6 linked regions of the Homo sapiens genome follow. The protein of the gene in region 4 purifies or fractionates together with the protein of the main gene of each other region. This does not show direct contact. Each region holds a gene or a part of one and is shown on either strand. Other genes may lie near its edges. The genes, in order: TM9SF3, HIGD1A, RIOK3, SLC16A9, ROBO1 and CLCC1.

Region 1 (3,500 bases), about 37 Mb from region 4:
AAAATAGCAGAGCCTTGTTAGAAATTACAACATTTTATGTGTGTCTAATTAGTATAGTTACTAGTAACTATATAAAACTTCTTTTATTTTAAAAAATTTGATAAATTGACTAAAAGATGGTATGTGTCATTTTTCTTTCCCTCTTGAGCTTTTCTGGGTTAACATCTCAGGGTGGGAACAAAATCAAATCTTTGGAAAATCATAGACTGCTTTTATGAACCTTAAATGATACTTTTACAATAAACTCAGATTTATATAACCTTTTTTGAGCAAACATTTCAAAAAACAATGCATTTCTTGGTTCCTTTATAATTTTACTGGATGCTCAATAAATAAATTGTTGAATGAAGTAAGGAATAGTCTTCTGAAGAGGCTGTCTCCTGTTTTTCAAGAAGATCCATAGAGTTTATCTCGTTCCTGAAACCTCAGGGTGGATAACAGAGCCTGGACTGCCCTTCAGTTTCATGCACATATTCAGCACGTTAGCCCAAGTTAACATATGTCCTAATCATACACAGCAATGCATATGTATGTACCTGTAGAATTTTAGAGCAGGAGGATATCTATGAAGAACCGGAATATGTAGATAAGAGGTTTCATGGAGGGGAAGGTACTTGTGTTGGAATATGAAGACTGGGTAGAATTTGCTAAGGGGAGTAGAAGTAGATCTATGTGAGAAGAAATTATAAGAAAAATACAGAGGTGGAAGTGAGTATGCTGTGCTTGTGGATTCTTGAAGAGGGATAAGGCTTATTGGAATATAGAATATAATGGAAAGAAAAGTTGACTAGATAAGGTGAGATGGCCATATTACAGGAAGTATAGAATATTGGAGAAAATAGTTTAGATTTGATATGAGAGAAATAGGGTGTACAACTGTAAATTTTAGAATAGAGGAGTGATATATGAACCTGCTTTGGAAAGATTTCCTTGATAGCTTTTTACAGGATAAATTGAAAGGAAGGGGAGAGACCAAAAAAAAAAAAGGCCAACCAGGAGGCCATTAGTGCTATCAAGGTATGAGGTGATGGCATGGGAATGAAGCAGAATGGATAGATACAAGTCATTTTGAAGAAAAATACATGCTTAATATTACCTATGAAGAATTAAGGAGAAGGAAGAGCCAGAGATAATTGTAAAATTTCAAAGCCACATGTTAGTACCATTAGCAGAAGTTAGAGAATCAGAAACAAGTGTTATATATGAGGTGGAAGATTATGAGTGTACTTTAGGGCAGTCTGAGTCTGCAATTCCAGAAACATTCAAGTGGAAATTATTGTAGTTAGCAAAAGCCTGAAACATGAGTGAGAAAGAAGACTAGCAATTTGGGGTGGGATGGGAGGTGGGGGCGAGGGTGTTATCATCATCATTGGAATGCTGGTTAAAAGTTCTGAGAGCCTAAAGAAGTCACAGCAGAGTACTAAGACTGGAGCTTTTGGAGAAGTTCACAAAGGATGGGAGGAGCCAGCATGGAAGATGAAAGAGGAGAAGCAGCGGTCAGTGAAGTAGGATGCTGTAGTGTCAGGAAAGGTCAGATGTGGCAGAGAGATCAAGGAGAGTGAGGCAGATAATTGGCTGCTGAATCGGTTTAGAAGTTCATTGCAGGCCTTTGAGAGAAATTTTGTGGGGCAAAAGTGAGATTGTATTGTGTTTTGGAGGAAGTGAGGGAAGAACTGGAACATGTCTTCTTTGAAAAGTATTGACATTGAAAGGATCGGGAGGTGAGAAGATGAAAAGAATGAGGGACAAAAGATGAAGCAAACACTTCAAAAGAGAATAATAGCAATAACAATAACTTTTAGGTTTTATTTAGTGTTTATGATGTGCCAGGCACTATACTATTTGCTTTACCTTTATTGTTTAAACTCTATGACAACCCCAGGGAGTAGACATCATTGTAGATAAGGACCTTTGGAGATTGCTGATGGCTGGTGAAAGGTGGAGGGGTTGGGATGCAAAATGAGAGGAGAAAAAACACCTCAAAACTGGATGTGGAAAGGTTGTGTCATAGAAGACAGGATTTGCTTCAAGGGAAGGCAGCAGAAAGGATGGCATTGGGGCCTTGAAGAGAGGAGAGAAATTTGGGGACTATCCCTAAAGATCTTTTGGGAATTAAAATGTAAATAAAGAAATAACTGGGCAGTGCCACAGACCTAGTTCAAATCAGATATGCTACATTTTGAGTAGTACCTTGTGATTATGAATCAGAATCTAGATGTAATATTGAAACAAATATGTGGATAAAATCAAAGCCAAGAGCTTCAAGAACATTGAGGAACTAAAGGATACCTCAATATGCTATGGAAAATGGATTTGGAAAGGGCTGAATTATGATGGTGACAGGGTGAGGATGAACTAATCTGGAGCAAGTGAAGCAAATCATTCAGGATGGTGACCTAAGTCCATGGCAGCCAGCTATAATAGTTTAGTCTTAGTATTTTAAGGAGGTTTTCAGATTGTTCAATTAGGGGGAAGGGAACTAACATTTACTGAGTATCTAAGGTGCCATACTTTATATATACATTATTAAGCCCTACAAATCACTTACAAGATAAGTATTAGCTCCTCCATTTTCCAGATGAGAAAACCGCGGTCACATAGTCAGAAACTGGCAATGTTTGACTCCAGAGCCCATGTTTTTTCCATGTAATGCTGAATAGCATAGGTTATATGGCCAAATTGTACTTTTTGTTTTTAACAATAAATTTGATTTTGAAAATTTATATAAATGATAGCATGTTTTCAACATATGGGTGCTTATTGTAAAGAAAGCCAATCCCCTTGGCATAATGAATACTCATCCTCAAAGTGTCTGAAATTTGGATTTTTGTCTAAAGGATTTAATTAAAGACTTTTTTTTTTCTTTGCATTAACATCCGGTTGTCCTCATGGAACCTATGAATTTTGTGGCTGATATTGCAGGTTGGTAACATTTTATTTTCTGTTATTTTAGATTCATTGGTTTTCAATTTTCAACTCCTTCATGATGGTGATCTTCTTGGTGGGCTTAGTTTCAATGATTTTAATGAGAACATTAAGAAAAGATTATGCTCGGTACAGTAAAGAGGAAGAAATGGATGATATGGTGAGTAAACATTTACATTATATTTGTAGAAACATTTTAACTGAGTGTTAAGTTTTAAATGTTGGGAGGTAGGTCATAATTTCTTACCGGAAGTCTTTGAGTTTCCACAATTCAGGATTTTTAGAGTTAAGAAAGATGTAAAATGCCCAGTGTGGTCTGTAACCATGCCCTGTAATCAAATAATATTAATTTTTTTTCAGGAAAACATAAGAACATTCACCCGAAGTGGGATAAATAAATAGTGTAACCTCTTGTTAGTTCAAGCCAAGTTTTGCCACCAAGTAAGAATATGTCTAATACTGTTAAATACTGCTTAAAATTCAGGGAATGGGTAGAAGGATTAATTTATGTTCAGTTTAGTGGGTTCAGAGGAAAGATTTGTTTTCTAAGTTCTTTTACTAAGTTAGAGAACAAA
Region 2 (3,500 bases), on a different chromosome or scaffold from region 4:
CCGTTTCCCCTGTACAACCCATTCATTTTTAGCACCATGTTAATTAAAAATAGTGAAAAATTTTAAATTGATGTTACTTTTATCAATTAAAATAGTAGCTACTAATTTTCTGGCTATCTTCATCCTTAATCAACTATTTAACTTGACAATTTTAAGTTACTCAAACCAAACTGACAACTCCTATTGAACCTTCAATATCATGTTGGAAATCCTACTTAGCACTTTTCGGTGTAGTTAAATGCAGTCTTTATTGCTTTCAACTGCTGATTTATTTATTCCAATGTGCTTCCTTGCTTCAATTTTCACTTCAGATTAGTTTCCAGTCTATTACAGTAATCTGTTATCCATGGTGGTTGCCTCTGGGGAAAAGATTATTCTGAATAGCCAAAGTTTCTACCTAGCTCATTATTTACTCATTTTAAGAACAAAGCTTTTATTTTAAATATTGGTAGAAATGTCTCCTTCATAGCCTTTTAGATTTTTTTAATGACCTATGATTAGTTTTTTTTCTTTTTTGAGACTGAGTCTTGCTCTGTTGCCCAGGGTGGAGTGCAGTGGCACGATCTCGGCTCACTGCAACCTCCATTTGGCACACACCACCGTGCCTAATTTTTTTGTATTCTTTAGTAGAGACAGGGTTTCACTCCTGACCTCACGTGATCCACCCACCTCAGCCTCCCAAACTGCTGGGATTACAGGTGTGAGCCACTGTGCCAGCTTATGATTAGCTTTTTTTTTTTTTTTTGAGATGGAGTTTCGTTCTTGTTGCCCAGGCTGGAGTGCAATGGCGTAGTCTTGGTTCACTGCAACCTCTGCCTCCCAGGTTCAAGTGATTCTCCTGCCTCAGCCTCCCAAATACCTGGGATTAGAAGTGCCTGCCACCATGCCTGGCTAATTTTTTTTGTATTTTTAGTAGAGATGGGGTTTCACCATCTTGACCAGGCTGGTCTCGAACTCCTGACCTCAGGTGATCCACCTGCCTCCCAGTGTTGGGATTACAGGCATGAGCTACCACACCTGGCCCTATGATTAGCACCTTTTAACATCACTGCAGCACAAAACTGAATTACCCTCAGGGTCTTCTTAATATCTTCTAAGCTTCAGATCTGCCTTCATTTACATACCTTATATCCCCTAGGCTTCCTTTTAAAACTCTACCCTCTTTTTATAATTCCTTTAAATGGTATCCCAAAGGCAAGATCTAGCCTGATAGTGTATGAGTAAGGGGATAGGAAAAAAAAAAAAAGGATTCATTTTCATTATCACAGGGATCAAAGGCTCCTTTCCTCCTTTTCAGTCATCTCCGTGAATAGCCCTTTTATCACAATGAGGCATTAACAAATGCTATTTCATTTTAGCCACAATAACAAAGTATACTTTCTTCACTGAACTATTTTGAATTGCAATAAACTTTACTCACAGATAAAATAAGGGCCTGAAGCATAGTGTAAGCATACAAGTCTCTAATTAGTGTCAATTACAATAAACTTAAAAGTCTATGCCCATCCTAACACCCATATAAAATCTTACTTTCACTTCTGGGTTTTTCATGTGCATTATGCTCCCTTTGATAAAAGTACCTCTCATTCAACACCTTGCTACTCAAGGGGAGTCAGTGGCAGTTAAGGTCCTCAACAAAAATGCAACTCCGGAGGGGGTGGTGTGCTTAGTTTAGAAAGTGAATTCATCCCTATAAGCCTCACCTTCATTGAGAAGACTCAACTGTCATCTGACATAGAAGAAAATCTTAGCTAAATAAAAGAAAATTTAGATTGGACTTAAACCTTCTTTTTGTACTCCATTACTTCTTAACTGAATAAACTCCTAAGTAATGAGCTTTATTATATATAAGGTTCAATAAGCTCAAGGTTCAAGATACTCACTATATATCTGAATAATACAATATAAACACTAAAGTAATTAATCGTTCAAAAATTAGTTGTTGTTTTTTTTTTTAAAAAAAAAAGAGAAATCATGTAACCGCCAAACAGGTTCACCTTGCCCGCTGGCTAGACAGAGCTGATTTACCAAGACAGGGGAATTGCAATAGAGAAAGAGCAATTCACCCAAAGCCAGCTGTGTGGGAGACCAGGATTTTTATTATTAGTCAAATCAGTCTCTTGGAGCATTCAGGGATCAGTTTTTAAGGATAATTTGGTGGGTGGGGGAAGGCCAGAGAACAGAGTGCTGATTGGTTGGGTTGGAGATGAAATGGGAAGTTGAAGCTGTCCTCTTGTGCTGAGTCAGTTCCTAGGTAGGGGACATAAGATCAGACGAGCCAGTTTATTGATCTGGGTGGTGCCAGTTGGTCTATCAAGTGCAGGGTCTGCAAAATATCTCAAGCACTGATCTTAGGAGCATTTTAGGGAGGGTTAGAATCTTATAACTTCCGTCCCTCTCCCTCTCCCTCTCCCTCTCCGTCTCCCTCTCCGTCTCCCTCTCCCTCTCCCTCCTTCTCCGTCTCCGTCTCCGTCTCCGTCTCCGTCTCCCTCTCCCCACGGTCTCCCTCTCATGCGGAGCCGAAGCTGGACTGTACTGCTGCCATCTCGGCTCACTGCAACCTCCCTGCCTGATTCTCCTGCCTCAGCCTGCCGAGTGCCTGCGATTGCAGGCACGCGCCGCCACGCCTGACTGGTTTTGGTGGAGACGGGGTTTCGCTGTGTTGGCCGGGCCGGTCTCCAGCCCCTAACCGCGAGTGATCCGCCAACCTCGGCCTCCCGAGGTGCCGGGATTGCAGACGGAGTCTCGTTCACTCAGTGCTCAGTGGTGCCCAGGCTGGAGTGCAGTGGCGTGATCTCGGCTCACTACAACCTCCACCTCCCAGCCGCCTGCCTTGGCCTCCCAAAGTGCCGAGATTGCAGCCTCTGCCCGGCCGCCACCCCGTCTGGGAAGTGAGGAGTGTCTCTGCCTGGCCGCCCATCGTCTGGGATGTGAGGAGCCCCTCTGCCCGGCCGCCCAGTCTGGGAAGTGAGGAGCGTCTCCGCCCGGCCGCCATCCCATCTAGGAAGTGAGGAGCGCCTCTTCCCAGCCGCCATCACATCTAGGAAGTGAGGAGCGTCTCTGCCCGGCCGCCCATCGTCTGAGATGTGGGGAGCGCCTCTGCCCCACCGCCCCATCTGGGATGTGAGGAGCGCCTCTGCCCGGCCGAGACCCCGTCTGGGAGGTGAGGAGCGTCTCTGCCCGGCCGCCCCGTCTGAGAAGTGAGGAGACCCTCTGCCTGGCAACCACCCCGTCTGAGAAGTGAGGAGCCCCTCCGCCCGGCAGCTGCCCCGTCTGAGAAGTGAGGAGCCTCTCCGCCCAGCAGCCACCCCATCTGGGAAGTGAGGAGCATCTCCGCCCGGCAGCCACCCCGTCCGGGAGGGAGGTGAGGGGGGGTCAGCCCCCCGCCCGGCCAGCCGCCCCATCCGGGAGGGAGGTGGGGGGTCAGCCCCCCGCCCGGCCAGCCGTGCCATCCGGGAGGGAGGTGGGGGGGTCAGCCCCCCGCCCGGCCAGCCGCCCGG
Region 3 (3,177 bases), on a different chromosome or scaffold from region 4:
TGTGACCATAGCTCACTGCAGGCTTGATCTCCTGAGCTCTAAGAATCCTCCTGCCTCAGCCTCCCAAGTAGCTGGGACCAGAGATGCATGCCACCACACTCACCTAATGTTTTGTAGAGATGAGGTCTGCTATGCTGCTCAGGCAGATCTCAAACTCCTAGGCTCAAGTGATCATCCTGCCTCAGCATCCCAACGTATTGGGATTACAGGTGTGAGCCACCACGCCCAGCCAGTATTTGATTTTTTATTTACTTAGCAAACCAGTATTTTTCACTTTCTTTTTCTACTATGGGAAAAAAATCTACTCTCTAATCTACAAGGTGTGAGGGGGGGAACCTATTTGTAATGTGAAGTAGGCCATTTGCGATTGAAATCTAACAATGAGAAGTTGAGGGGGAATAATCTACTTAAAATAGCATTGCTTAACTTTATACAGAAACAGCAACTTGGTACCAGGACATAAGTTAATATAAGGAACAGGAAGATACCACACAAAGAACCAATTTTAAAATGATCTCTTTTTAATTTCTTAAAAAGCACATTCACAGCACACTCCAAGAATGCCACACAGCAGTGGTTTGCTGCTCTTTGTCAGAATATGTCAGAAAACAAAACAAAAAAAGTTTTAAATGCTAAAGATTTTAAAAATTAGTTCTCTGAAATTTCTGTAAAGCCAGTATCACCAGTCATATAAATCTTTATTTTGGAATCATAAACCTTTCAAAAATGTAATGAGCATCTACCCAAAATTACACCTCTCTGAAATGTAATTAAAAGCTATCCAACAAAAACAAAAATAAATATTTTTCTAGAAAGAACATATTTGGCATTTTAAAATAATGTTAAAAACAGCTTTCTCAAATGTAAATGATGTCTAGATTTTTACTTTCTATTACCAGACAGAAAGTTTGGATCTTTAGTGGTTCCAATCTGACTTCAGTAATAGGAGGCATGATTACATTGAAGTTAATGAACTTTAATCCTAACAAAGCCAATATACTTTTCTAGCACAGTGATTGCTTTTTAAAAGTGGTGTCCAGCACGTACTAAAAACTACTAAGAGTAAGGCCAGATAGCTCAAATTAGTTGATTAATTTGGTATCCAAATTGGGTTTTTTTTTTTTTTTCCTGGAGATGGAGTTTCCCTCTGTCACCTAGGCCGGAGTGCAGTGGCATGATCTCAGCTCACTGCAACCTCTGCCTCCCGGGTTCAAGCGATTCTCCTGTCTCAGCCTCCTGAGAAGCTGAGATTACAGAGAAGTGCCACCACACCCGGCTAATTTTTGTATTTTTAGTAGAGACAGGGTTTCGCCATGTTGCCCAGGCTGGTCTTGAACTCCTGACCTCAAGTGATCCACCCGCCTTGGTCTCCCAAAGTGCTGGGATTACAGGTTTGAGCCATCGTGCCTGGCCCCCAAATTGTTTTATATATACCTTTCATCCTTAGATTTAATATTTCTAATTTGTGATATTTCTCTGAAAATCAATCAAGTACACAGTTCTAGTGAAATATAAACTGAATTTTGCTTCATTAACTAAATTAAAATACGTCAAACATGGTTAAATCTTATATTCTGTCCTTTCAGATAATTTACATTTTATTGATAAATGTAGATTAGCCACACCATGAGTTATATCCTAACCATTTTACCTAAATGTAGAAAAGCTGAAAGTTGACTGGATAGTTAAAAAGCTGTTATATAGTTATCTCTTTCAGAAACCTATGATGCCTTTTCTTAGATATAAGTATGGAAAAAGAATTCTGTTCATTTTCATGATATATCAACAAAAATTACATGACTTATGTCGATTTCTGTCAGCCATTCTGAAACCAAATTTCCATTTGTTCTACCCACTAAAGAGCACACATTTTCCTTTAGAATCACGGCCACAGTCTGGAAACATAATTGAGAAAGGCTAACTCTGGGCCAATAAAATATTCAAGGAAAGACGCAACACAAAACAGGGAGGTGAATAAAGCAAGTATGTTGTAAAATCCTCCCTTGTAAACACATCTGTCCTTTCCTCCCATATTTGGAAGTGTTACCCAAGTTTTAAAAATTATCATCAAGACATTTTACACCACAAGTCACATAAAATTAGGTCTACTTCAGCCAGATAACCTATAGCTGTTAAAGAATTATATTATCCTGTTCATAAGATGAGAGGTAGTGACATTTTATTCTCTCAATGCTGAGCTAAAAATTCCACACATCTGGCACATGGGTTACAAGGGGGAAAAGCACAGAAGCACCATTGCCCACTCCTCAGGTTTTGGTATTTCAAGTCACCCATAACTTCATTTGCTATTGGCAGCTGACAATCACTGCTGTGTTAACACTGAAGCAGTGGGTATTAGTGCTATTCATCATATAGTAGTGGTGGGTCTCCATCATCTTTCAAAAATGAAGCAGCTTTCCTTCCATTCTTCTGAACGTGATCTTCATTCATTTTCTCCAAAGCTTCTATCTACAAAAATAATACATTGAATCCATTTGTCAAAATCCTACTTTTCACAGAAACCATATTTTAGATTGTGCTAGTAATTTTTTTCTTTTTTTGAGATGGAGTCTCACTCTGTCGTCCAGGCTGGAGTGCAGTGGTGCAATCTCGGCTCACTGCAACCTCTGCCTCCTGGGTTCAAGCAATTCTCCTGCCTCAGCCTCCCTAGTAGCTGGGACACATGTGCCACCACGCCAGCTAATTTTTGTATTTTTAGTAAAGACGGGTTTCACTATGTTGCCCAGGCTGGTCTCGAACTCCTGACCTCAGGTGTTCCACCCGCCTTGGCCTCTCAGAGTGCTAGGATTACAGGCGTGAGCCACCGTGTCCAGCCAGTTTTTTTATTTTTTATTTTTTAATGGAGTTTATGTTGCTCAGGCTGGTCTCAAACTCCTGGGCTCAAGAGATCCTCCCTCCTTGGCCTCCCAAAGTGTTGGGATAACAGATATAACAGGAGTGAGCTGCCATGCCTGGCTGAGCCAGTAATTTTTACTCGCTTAAAAACTAGGTTATTCCTAATGATTCTGCCTTTGAGTTGAAATTACTATGTGTGTGTGTGTGTGTGTGTGTGTGTGTGTGTGTGCGTGCATCCAAGTATACACAAATAGTCATACATACATGTATTTTTTTTAACTTGATTGCAAGGGTCAATATTTACTATCTTTATCCAGCTAG
Region 4 (3,942 bases):
AAATTGAGTAGAAAGGACTGATGGGGGCCAAAAGGGCTGAACCTCCACCACATTTGTGCTGTAAGAAAACATGACATGGTTGCCTAGGCTCCACAGGTTTTTTAAACTCTCATCTCACACAAACTCCATGATACAGGCAAGATTCTTGTAATTTCATAGACAAGGAAACAGAGGCTCAGCAGCTTGATCAGCACTTCTGAAACCAACCCTTTGCCAGGTGTAGAGTCTTCGTCTAGGCCAGGACCTGTCACTTCAGTGTATAAAGGAAGTTCTCATCAAGGTGGTTGATGGCCGCAGTCCCCTTTAAGAAGTAGAAAGTGTGGTGCGGCTTCCCAGAAAAAACACAGAGGAACACAAAAAGTGCATATCACTTTGGAGGTTTCCCACGGCCGGCGAACCACTGGTACCTATGGACAGCCCCCAGCTGCTGCAGTGACTGAGGGATAAAACAGCCATCCATCTCTGCGCGCAAGCCCATTACCAAAGATAGTATTGCCAATGGTAGTATTGTTAGTGCAGTTCAACTGCAGGACAGACTGAACGTCCTTAGAAGCAGCCTGTGTGTGTGTGTGTGTGTGTGTGTGTGTGTGTGTGTGTGTGTGTGTGTGCACCGCAGGACGCCCTCCTTTCCCGCGGAGCTGTCACAAAGGACTGTACTTGGCATCCTCACTCCTCACTTCCCAGGATCACGGACTCCACAAAGTTCTGGTGCCCGTTTCTCCGGGACCACTGCCAGCTGAGCATACAGCTCCGGCCAGGAGGGCGCCAGCGGCCCCGGGAGCCAGGGAGACCAAGGAACACTCGCATTCATTTGTACACCCCGGCTCCCCCCAAACGCGCACGGCCCTTGGCGGGCTTGGCCAGGGCACGTGGTGGGCGGCGGGGGCACAGCGGCGCCTGGGGACGCGCGTGTGTGCGCACCGAGAGGGCGCCTGGCCGACGGCGCCCACCTCTCTCGTGGCTTTGGTGGCTCCAGGCCTGGTAGGGCCGGGGCCGCGGCTCGGGCAGTGCCCTCCCTACTCCTGGCCGGGCCGGGAGCAGCGGGAGCAGGCGCAGCGCCCCTACCGCCCGCTTTTCCGCCTCCATCTCCTCCGCCTCCTCCTCCTCCTTCCCCCAACCACCCGCGCAGTCACAACCGGTTCAGACTGGCCGGGGTGCCCCGCAAAGAGAGACAAGGGAGAAAAAGACAGCAGGGAAAACCCCGGGGAGGAGAAGGCGAAAGAGAAGGTGGAGCTCAGAGAAGGGGGCCGGCTCCCCAGCTCCATGTGGCCGCCGCCGCTGCGGGTCTGTGGGGGCAGAGGGCGGCGGCTCCCGGGGCAGCGCGTAGCGGGACCGATTGCCTAATACTCCGGCAGGGGCCGGGGCCGCAGCTGGCTCGGATAAATAGCCGCCCGGCTGGCCCGGAGCTGCAGGGGAGAGCGGCGGCCGCGATCCCCACCACACCACCAGCCCGGCCGCACGGGGCACTGAGCCGGGTGCTGAGCACCGGAGGCCCCGCCGAGGCCGGGACTCAGGTAAAGGGCTGGAGCTTGCGGGGAGGGTTCCAAAGGTGGGCAGCAGCCCCTGCTGCCCAGCGTCCTAGAGGCAAGAAGTAACTCCGACTCGGAGCAGTAGGAGGGGGCGGTGGAGCAGCATGGAACCGGGCTTTTGTCTGGGGTGTGTGCCGGGGGCTTCGAGTGTCCACGGTGCGCCCGCCCCTCGCCGCCCCCTTTTTGATGGGGTGCTTCTACAAAGTGGGCAAGTTTTCCCGGGAATCCGAAGGCGGCATTTTGTACGGAGTTGAAAGAGAGGGAGGGGGTCCTGGGGGTGGTACGGTGGCCCCCCAGAGAGCTGCCTCTGGACTCCAGAGAGCTTCCAGGGTTGCTGGTGGAAGAGCAGGGAGAGGTGCATGTGATGCAGGTGGGCCTCCATTTCCCAGAGGACCGAAAGGCCTCCAACTGCCTTGGTCCGGAGCGCGAGCAACCAGGTGCCCCCGGAGGGTTGGGAATGGGGCGCCGCGGGTACTCCTGACCTACGTGGAGCGCAGCGCGCAGGGCCGGCGGATTCTGCACGTTGGCGCCAGGTTCAGCACCACCCGGCAGCCCTGGGCGAGCGCGGGAGCCCAGCCTTCGCCACCGCCGCAGGAGGCACCGGCACCGCGCCCACCTGGACCCTCAGCCAGCACTTGGGAGGACTTGGTGCTTAATGCCCCATCTTTGGTTCGCCCTAGGTAACCTGCTCTGGCTTCAGCAGCGCCCAGAGGCTTTCCAGAGAGCTGATAACCACGAACAAACTTGGCTGTCAAAAGCAAATCAATGCTTTACCTTGTTTTCTGGGTGCCTAGTCTATCCAACACAAACTATCCCCGAAGTTTAGTCAGGATTTACGCTAAATATATTACTTATATAGTAAGTTATTCGATATAACATTTTTGGTCAATTTTCTAGGCTACAGTTTTGATGTGTTTTTTAAAAATCTTGAATTAACTGAATAACAGTTCATATTGAAGGTGGATTCTCCCATTCCCTGCACCCAGGATTTTCCGTTGTTCCATCAAATTCTGTAAATCGGTATGCCCTAACAGTTTCTTATATTTGAGTTGGCTTCAGCTTCGAGAAATTCTTCAGGCAGGTTTAGGCAGAGGGCTGAGGAAGCTAGAGAAGATTCCGAAGAGAAAGGATGATTATTTGTTGCATGATTATAGCTTCTTTTAAAACTTCTAATAGGAAAACCCTTCCACTTTCCTGGACCAAATGCAGAGTAAAGTCATTTTCTATTATCTGTTGCAATAATTAATAATAAATATGTAAATGCAGAAAACATGGTTAGTACCCATATCATTGCCAGAAACCAGTCCCGCTCTCCCTCCACCATCAAAAAAAAGTCCTCGCAAGTAGGAATTAGATAAAATAATTTAACCTGCAATTTTGCAACAACTCAGACTTTCAGCACCACCGACCCCCTAATAACATCCCTACTGGTTTCTTCCATTTTTTGTGTAGGCAAGTGGAATAACAGGTATCCTTCATATCCATAGGAAGAGCATTGGGAGGAGCCAAAGATATGGGGAGGTAGATCAAGACATTAGGAAATCTTTTCTGGCTTCTGACTTTGAGTCTGAAAAGGTGGTGTGAATTGGTTGGTGTCTGAATCTTTATCAGGACACATTATGGTGGTCTGGGGTGGATCTGGCCATGCAACTCAAGCTAGAGGATGACAACTACAGAGATGTGGTCACATTTTCAAGTTTTACTTCCTTACCTCAATCTTTCAAACCCCTAATTAATTAGGTAATAAAAATTGTATATATTTATGATGCACACAACACAGTATTTTGAAACAGTAATACATTGTAGAATGGCCCAACCAACATAATTAACCTATATGTATTACGTCACATTTTTATCTTTTGTTTTTTTTTTTTTTTTGGTGTGGTGAGAACACTTCAAATCTACCATCTTAACAATTTTCAAAATTGTGACTATAGTGACTATAGTCACTATGTTGCACAATAGATCTCTTAAACTTATTGCTCCTATCTAACTGAAATTTTGTATCCTTTGACAAACATCTCTTCACCCCAACCCTACCTACTGGTAACCAGGGTTCTACTCTATTCTCTGAGTTCAACAATTTTAGATTCAAGTCTCCCTTCCCTTCCCTTCCCCTCCCTTCCCCTCCCTTCCCTTCCCTTCCCTTCCCTTCCCTTCCCTTCCCTTCCCTTCCCTTCCCTTCCCTCCTCTCCCCTCCCCTCCTCTGCCCTCCCCTCTTTTCCTTCCCTCTTTTCTTCTCTCTCTTCTCTCTCTCTCTTTCTTCTCACTGCAGCCTCGACTTCACCAGGCTCAGGTGATCCTCGCACCTCAGCCTCCCGAGTAGCTGGGACTACAAGCGTGTGCCACCACACCCAGGTAATTTCTGTGTTTTTGTAGAGATGGGGTTTCGCCATGGTTCCCAAGCTGGATT
Region 5 (3,500 bases), on a different chromosome or scaffold from region 4:
TTACCACCCAGGTTAAGTAATAAAAGATTAAATGTAATATTGAAGTTTTCTGGGTACTCTTCCAGATTGAATCTCCCTTCTAAGAGGTAACCAGTGTGGTAAATTTGCTGTTATTATTTCTATGCATTTTCTCTTGAGTTTACTGTATATATTACATATTTAATTCATATATAGTATTGTCTTAAGTAAATAAAATATTAGCCTAAATTGTCAAATATTGTTTGCATTCTTGGAAATATTTTTTTATGATTAATTCAAGTTGCTTCGGGTACAGTTACTTTATTCATATTCATTGCAATATAGTGTTCTATAAATACTATAAGTATATACATATATTATATTTTTAAATATATTATTATTATATATTTAGTAGGTATGGTAAAAATATATAGTATATTTTATATATAGTACATATATTTCATATATAATATAGTGCATATATATTATAGTATATATACAGTATTAAAATATGTATTATATTTTATGTTTTTCTCTCTCATTTATAGGTATTTTTCTTACTATAACAGACTGTAGCAATTTTTTGGCACATGTCTCACTGTGCACACATACTTTTTAGATATTTGCCTAGAAGTGAAATTGCTGATGACGTGTAATGTGTTTCTTCTCTTTTTTGCCCCCAAACCCATAACAGTACCCTGTAGTATTTGTAATTTGCAAAATTACATAATTTGTAATTATGTTTAGCCAGAATTAAAGACCATTTTTTAAGACAAACTGTATAATCTCTTATACTTGTGAAAGCCCCCATGAATATTTAATAATGTCACATTTTGTAATTTTGCCAGTTGAATGGTTTTAATTTGTCTTTTCTGATTATTAGTGTGGTGAGCATGTTTTCATAGAACATTCAGGTTTTTTTTTTTTGCTGTGAATTGCTTAAACATAATTTTTACCCATTTCTCTAGTGAGACATTTATCTTTTTTCTTATAGATTATACAAATTCTTTATATATCCTGGATTCTATTTTTTTTTTTTTTTTGGTATTGCATTGGAAATATATTTTCCTAGGCTGTTTTATCTTTTTTCTTCTTAATGAAGGAAATAATTTTGTATCGTTTTTTCAAATATGATATACACTGTGCTTTGTTAAAATTGATTACCTTTTATTACATTTTTCCTTTTTCCATCTTGTTTTGGGAAACCAATCTTTATGGTGAAGTCATAAAATACTTCTTATATTTTTTCTGAAAATTTTTCACTTGTGCTTTTTTTTTTTTTTTTTTTTTTTTTTTTTTTTTTTGAGATAGGGTCTCACTGTCTCACCCAGGCTGGAGTGCAGTGGCGCGATCTCGGCTCACTGCAACCTCCGCCTCCTAGGTTCAAGCAATTCTCCTGGCTCAGCCTCCCGAGTAACTGGGACTACAGATGCACACCACCACACCCAGATAATTTTTGTATTTTTAGTAGAGATAGGGTTTCACCTTATTGGCCAGGCTGGACTCAAACTCCTGACCTCAGGTGATCCACCCACCTCAACCTCCCAAAGTGCTGGGATTACAGGCATGAGCCACCACTCCCCGCCTCAGTTTTGCTTTTTACATTCAGGTCTTTTGATCTACCTGGAATTGATTTTTTGTTTTATGTGCTGAAAAATATGACTGCCACTCATAAGTGTTCCATATGTGGGTGGGCTAGCACTGCCATTTGTTTATAAGGCTGGTTGGCATCTGTCCTCATGTGAGACACTTGTTTCTGGTTATTGTCTGTCAGGTTGGTTTGTGGATGGTCATCTCACTGAATCATCACAATGTTAATGAACCAAAGTGAAAAGCATTAATTAAGACTTCAAACAAAATCGGATTATGTTTAGCCAGAATTAAAGACCATTTTTTTAAGACAAACTGTATAATCTCTTTAAATCGTATGTGAATTGCTCATGTTCAATGAGTCCTTAGCTATGCATAGCGTCATTTACTTAGTTTTAGTTCTTTATAGAGTATATTAATGAATCCTGTTTACTAAGGATGAACTTTCCTTGTGTATAGGACTATAGCAAAGGTAAACCTTAGAAATGGACTTCAGTACTTGGAAGGAAGAAGCATGACTCACTGTACGACTGTTGCATGACTGACCATTTGCCAGGTGAATTAGAACCTGGAGACAGAACATTTCAGCACAACAGCCAACAGCTTCTGATCAATGTGTAACCCTTGAATAAGCACTCAAAAATATTAATCCAAGCACAAAATGTTTCGAAAGGAAATTATTCCATCATATTGTATATATTATATTAAATTTTACCCTGGAATGAGGAACTAGGAAGATTGTAAAACAACTTCACTTACTTATACGCAGTCATAGAAAGTATTCTGTAAGAATTTACTTTTTATTCTCCAATTAAAAACCTCATACTAAACAAGCATGCTTTGTGCTAAACAAGTATTGGATTATTTAAATATTGGGTATTAATTTAAGAGAGTGTTAAAAAATGGCCTGGTTTAGCCAATGACAGATGCATAAATTCATAAGCTTACCTAAAATTAATCTCTATACCAAATATAAATTATATTCATACCAATAATTTTGATTTCTTCCAGTTAATGGTTTTTGTCACAATTCTGATAAAGGAAAGAAATTATTTTGGAAAATGAACAAATTTATTGTGTGCTTTTATTCATTCTTTTTGGCCCTTTTTTATATGACTTCAAGTTTGAGTTCTTCAGCACTCTGCCTTTCATAGACTCCAGGCTACTTTCCTAAGTTCTTTCCCTTTCCCCACCTGTCTCCTAAGTATAGTCTGCCTTACAATACAAGGTACACTTTACCCTCCCTCAACACACCACTCTGTTTCCAACTCATTGCCTTCCCCTTCTTGTCTTCTCAAAATACCTTTCTTCTTTTCTCTCTGTAGAGAATATGTTCATCCTTCAAGATATAACTTTATTGTTATGACCCTTCTGAATCATATTCCTATAGAAAGATCATCTCTCTCTCATTCGTGTTTGAATAAGACTGAGCACTTACCTGTATTACCCTTTAGTACAGCATTATTTGTGTCAATCTTAATAATCAGACTGTGACTAACTAGGACAAAGATGACAACAATATATCACTGTATTTATCTAAACTTGTACTGTCTAATACTCTAACCACTAGCTACATGTGCCTATTGACACTGAAAATGTGCTAGTGCAACAAAGGAACTGATTTTTAAATTAAATTTATTTTAATTTAGAGTTTCAGTTTAGATAGCCAATTTTATGCAATGAATATGTGGCTGGTGGCTACTGTCTTGGATAGAGCAGATACAGACGGTTTCCATCATCAGAGAAAGTTCTATTGGACAGTGTTGGGAAGAATAGACTCACAGTAAAATTAGAAGGAGATGAATTTATGAATAAAATAGTTTTACAGGGCATGGTAATAACATCAATGCTTTAATTTTCAGTGGATAGCTGCCACAGAGTTGTATTATACTAATGATTGTGTTGGTAAGGATAATTTTGCAACTTTGCAGATTTCAGCATGTCCTGCAAAG
Region 6 (3,480 bases), on a different chromosome or scaffold from region 4:
AAGTCTACTTTGACAGCTAGCAAGGCGACATGCAACTGTTGTTGAATGATGACAGCAATTCAGGAAAGACTTAAATATGAAAGCAAATTGAACACATCGGGTGTTTGTTATCAGAAAAGAGATGAGATGAGATAAGACTTGTTTATTGACTAGCCAATATGTCATTAAAATTAAGGTTTATATTGTGAAGCTTTTTTGAAATTTTACTTTTTTTTGAGAGTTTTGCTCTGTCACCCAGGCTGGAGTGAGGTGGTACAATCTCGGCTCACTGCAACCTCCACCTCCCAGGTTCAAGAGATTCTCCTGCCTCAGTCTCCCGAGTAGCTAGGATTACAGATGTGCATCACCATGCCTGGCTAATTTTTGTATTTTTTAGTAGAGATGGGGTTTCACCATGTTGGTCAGGCTGGTCTCGAACTCCTGACCTCAAGTGACCCGCCCTTGTCGGCCTCCCAAAGTGCTGGGATTACAGGCATGAGCCATTGTGCCCAGCCTATATAGTGTGAAGCTTTTAGGAAAATCAGAACAGGGTAGACAGCTGTTAAAAACAATGTTTAAATGGAATAATGTTGAATGTTTACAGGCTGTAAGAACTATTGTATACACAAAATAATACACAAAGTTTGTACTTTGTGTACAAATACAAATTTGTACTTTGTGTACAAATAATACAAAAAGTTTGTATACACAAACTTTTTACGTTGTGGTTTGGTATATTGTCTTAACTGAATTTTCTTATAAGAACCCCATGAAACTTACCTGAGTTTTTAAAATGCTATCCAGGACATCATACCTTATAGTATACATGAAACATAATGTAATCCAGGTTGTAATTTAGAACTTTTTTTTTTTTTTTAGCTGAGCACTTAATGTAATTAATTCCAGGTTATGACTCTTAAAAAACATTGGCCATTAGAGAAATAGTTCTATTTGCCCATCCAAATCACCTGAATGACTTTTTGAAAGAATAGGGGTCCACATCCCCAGATCCCATCCCAGCTGTGCACAGTCTGAAGCAAGCAGAGTGAAACAAGTTGGCAACTTGTTCCAAGCGTGGGCCTTTGCAGTCTGTGATCCAGTGTTACTCCAGGTCCCAGTCTGTCCCATACTTGTCTTTTGCTACAGTTAGTTAGTTACTTTGTTATCATCCCCTTGTAAACTGCCTTCAATATCTGGGATAAGGAAGACAAAGCTTAATGACAACTAAGGTTCTAGCTGACATCTTTCTTTCATATTTAATTTTTGTGAGTTTTCATCTGTTTTCTGTTTGTTTATGTGTCCTAGGTTCTTGACCTAACCACATGGGTTTTGTTTTTTGTTTTTATATTAGAACTTAGAAAAGTTTGTTTTACAGCAGTATTATGGAACAGAAGAGACCATTTTAAATAATTTTTTTAAACAGCCCAAAACACACAAAAGATACTTGTTTTCTAGAGACAGGGTCTTGCTCTGTCACCCAGGCTGGAGTGCAGTGGCACGATCATAGCTCAGTGCAGCCTCCACCTCCTGGGCTCAAGTGGTCCTCCTGCCTCAGCCTCTTAAGCAGTTGGGACTACAGGTGTGTGCCAGCATGCTTGCTGTTTTTTTTTTTTTTGAGACAGAGTCTTGCTCTGTCACTCAGGCTGGAGTCCAGTGGCTTGGTCTCAGCTCACTGCAATCTCTGCCTCCCAGGGGTTCAAGTGATTCTCCTGCCTCAGCCTCCCAAGTAGCTGAAACTACAGGCGCATGCCACCATGCCCAGCTAATTTTTGTATTTTTAGTAGAGACAGGGTTTCACTATGTTGGCCAGGCTGGTCTCAAACTCCCGACCTCAAGTGATCCGCCCGCTTCGGCCTCCCAAAGTGCTGGGATTACAGGTGTGAGCCACTGCGCCTGGCTGCTGATTTATTTTTCATAGACACGGGGGTCTATGTTGCCCAGGTTGGTCTTGAACTCCTAGCCTCAAGCGATCCTCCTGCCTCAGCCTCCCAATGTGCTGGGATTACAGGAATGAGCCACCATGCCCAGCCCAAGAAGTAGAGTTTCTTTTATACTGACTTTGGCCTAAAAAAACAGATTTTCATGGAGGAAAAAAAAACCTAGATTTTTAGTAAGACTATTTTATATACTTTTTTACATTGATCAAGTACATTATTTTTACCAAACAACATTGTTTCCCACTACATCCATGGTTATGTATAAAAAAACGCCATTGTCAATTAAGATGTTAAAAAATTATTTCCATAAGAGTATTAAATTCTAATCTATGATTCACTTAACTTCCTACTTTATAAACACTAGGTAAAGTAATCTCACAAGCTGCCAAAGAACACATCCCAAGCAGTAATCACAGACGATGAAGCACCTTACAGGACCCCTCCACCCTCAAACGCGCATGTCCAGAGAAGTATTAATGCCTTAATAGACTACTGAAGGTTAACTATTTACATCATTCTAAAAATATTTTAAGCTGTATTACAGTGCTATAAATTCTCCTTTTAAGGAAAAAAGTAATAGATTGTTTCCTTACCGTGTTTGAAAGGAAAAAAAATAAATCCATAGTAACTAATGGTCTGCCGATTTTTTCCCTGAATTTTTAAACTCCAACAAAGCATTATTTTGCAAAAAGTCCTTTAGCCCAAAGTCAGTGTCTCTGTTTTGATCTCTTTGTAAAAGAACTCTCTGTTCATCCATTCTCTTTCCCTGGGACCGTAAAATAAGGCTGAAAAAGTCTTCATCTGGTACTGTCGGACCCTTTGTGGTAGCAGGTGGTGGAGCACATCTTTGATCATCTAATCTGGATCCCTAGAAGTTTATGAGAGAGATTAAAAGACATACTGTGGGAAAGAAAGCACCAAGCTATGTTAAATCTCTCAGTCACAACAAGAAAACGCAGTTGTAAACTTTTATTTGGGGCTTCTCAGAAATTAATCTTTGTTTTTATATTGTTCTCTTTAGTTCCCAGCCTGATTTCTGAAAGAAATAATCTTTAAACCTGAAACTGCATAAAATTTTTCCTTTAAAATGGCTTATATAGGTATAGCTGCTTCATTGGTTTAGTACGTGCATTATGTTAAGTCATACTGTTTTAATTATAATTGGTCACAAGGATAAAAGACAAGGTCAACTGTATCTAAGTATGACAGTTCAAGGTTATAATCTAACAGGCATCAACTGTGTAACTTAACAAATCTTTAGAAATATGTACAAACCCCATGAGGAACTACCTTAAAAAAATCACGTCTTAGGCTAGGGGACAGCAAACTGTAACCCAGTGCCGGCTTCTGTAAATGAAGTCATTTTCATTTTCCCATCAATACATATGTTTATATACTATCTATATGGCTGCTTCCCTACTAAATGGCAGAGTTGGGCAGTTGCAATAGATACCATATGGGCGGCAAAGCCTAAAATATTTTCTATCTGGCCTTTTACAGAAAAAGTTTGCCTGCCTCTGTCTTAGGCTGTTAAATCTGTTAAGAAATAGCCCAGAATGAATTT

What was found.
Region 1: the proteins of SLC16A9 (region 4) and TM9SF3 purify together in Homo sapiens (affinity purification with mass spectrometry; one large-scale study listed by BioGRID and IntAct). This does not show direct contact.
Region 2: the proteins of SLC16A9 (region 4) and HIGD1A purify together in Homo sapiens (affinity purification with mass spectrometry; one large-scale study listed by BioGRID and IntAct). This does not show direct contact.
Region 3: the proteins of SLC16A9 (region 4) and RIOK3 purify together in Homo sapiens (affinity purification with mass spectrometry; one large-scale study listed by BioGRID and IntAct). This does not show direct contact.
Region 5: the proteins of SLC16A9 (region 4) and ROBO1 purify together in Homo sapiens (affinity purification with mass spectrometry; one large-scale study listed by BioGRID and IntAct). This does not show direct contact.
Region 6: the proteins of SLC16A9 (region 4) and CLCC1 purify together in Homo sapiens (affinity purification with mass spectrometry; one large-scale study listed by BioGRID and IntAct). This does not show direct contact.

Annotation. Positions count from the first base shown.
Region 1 is NC_000010.11:96,552,513-96,556,012, reverse strand, and holds part of TM9SF3 (transmembrane 9 superfamily member 3 precursor), read left to right. Parts: intron 1-2,953; coding exon 2,954-3,085; intron 3,086-3,500.
Region 2 is NC_000003.12:42,794,491-42,797,990, forward strand, and holds part of HIGD1A (HIG1 domain family member 1A, mitochondrial), read right to left. Parts: intron 1-3,500. UniProt on the Homo sapiens protein: Proposed subunit of cytochrome c oxidase (COX, complex IV), which is the terminal component of the mitochondrial respiratory chain that catalyzes the reduction of oxygen to water. May play a role in the assembly of respiratory supercomplexes.
Region 3 is NC_000018.10:23,480,464-23,483,640, reverse strand, and holds the end of RIOK3 (serine/threonine-protein kinase RIO3), read right to left. Parts: intron 2,470-3,177; coding exon 2,362-2,469; 3' UTR 501-2,361; downstream 1-500.
Region 4 is NC_000010.11:59,707,051-59,710,992, reverse strand, and holds the start of SLC16A9 (monocarboxylate transporter 9), read left to right. Parts: upstream 1-1,142; 5' UTR 1,143-1,514; intron 1,515-3,804; exon of another isoform or gene 3,805-3,887; intron 3,888-3,942.
Region 5 is NC_000003.12:79,757,999-79,761,498, reverse strand, and holds part of ROBO1 (roundabout homolog 1 isoform a precursor), read left to right. Parts: intron 1-3,500. UniProt on the Homo sapiens protein: Receptor for SLIT1 and SLIT2 that mediates cellular responses to molecular guidance cues in cellular migration, including axonal navigation at the ventral midline of the neural tube and projection of axons to different regions during neuronal development.
Region 6 is NC_000001.11:108,929,005-108,932,484, reverse strand, and holds the end of CLCC1 (chloride channel CLIC-like protein 1 isoform 1 precursor), read left to right. Parts: 3' UTR 1-2,544; coding exon of another isoform or gene 2,545-2,784; 3' UTR 2,785-2,980; downstream 2,981-3,480. Other genes in the region: GPSM2 (G-protein-signaling modulator 2), read right to left, coding at 2,545-2,784. UniProt on the Homo sapiens protein: Anion-selective channel with Ca(2+)-dependent and voltage-independent gating. Permeable to small monovalent anions with selectivity for bromide > chloride > nitrate > fluoride.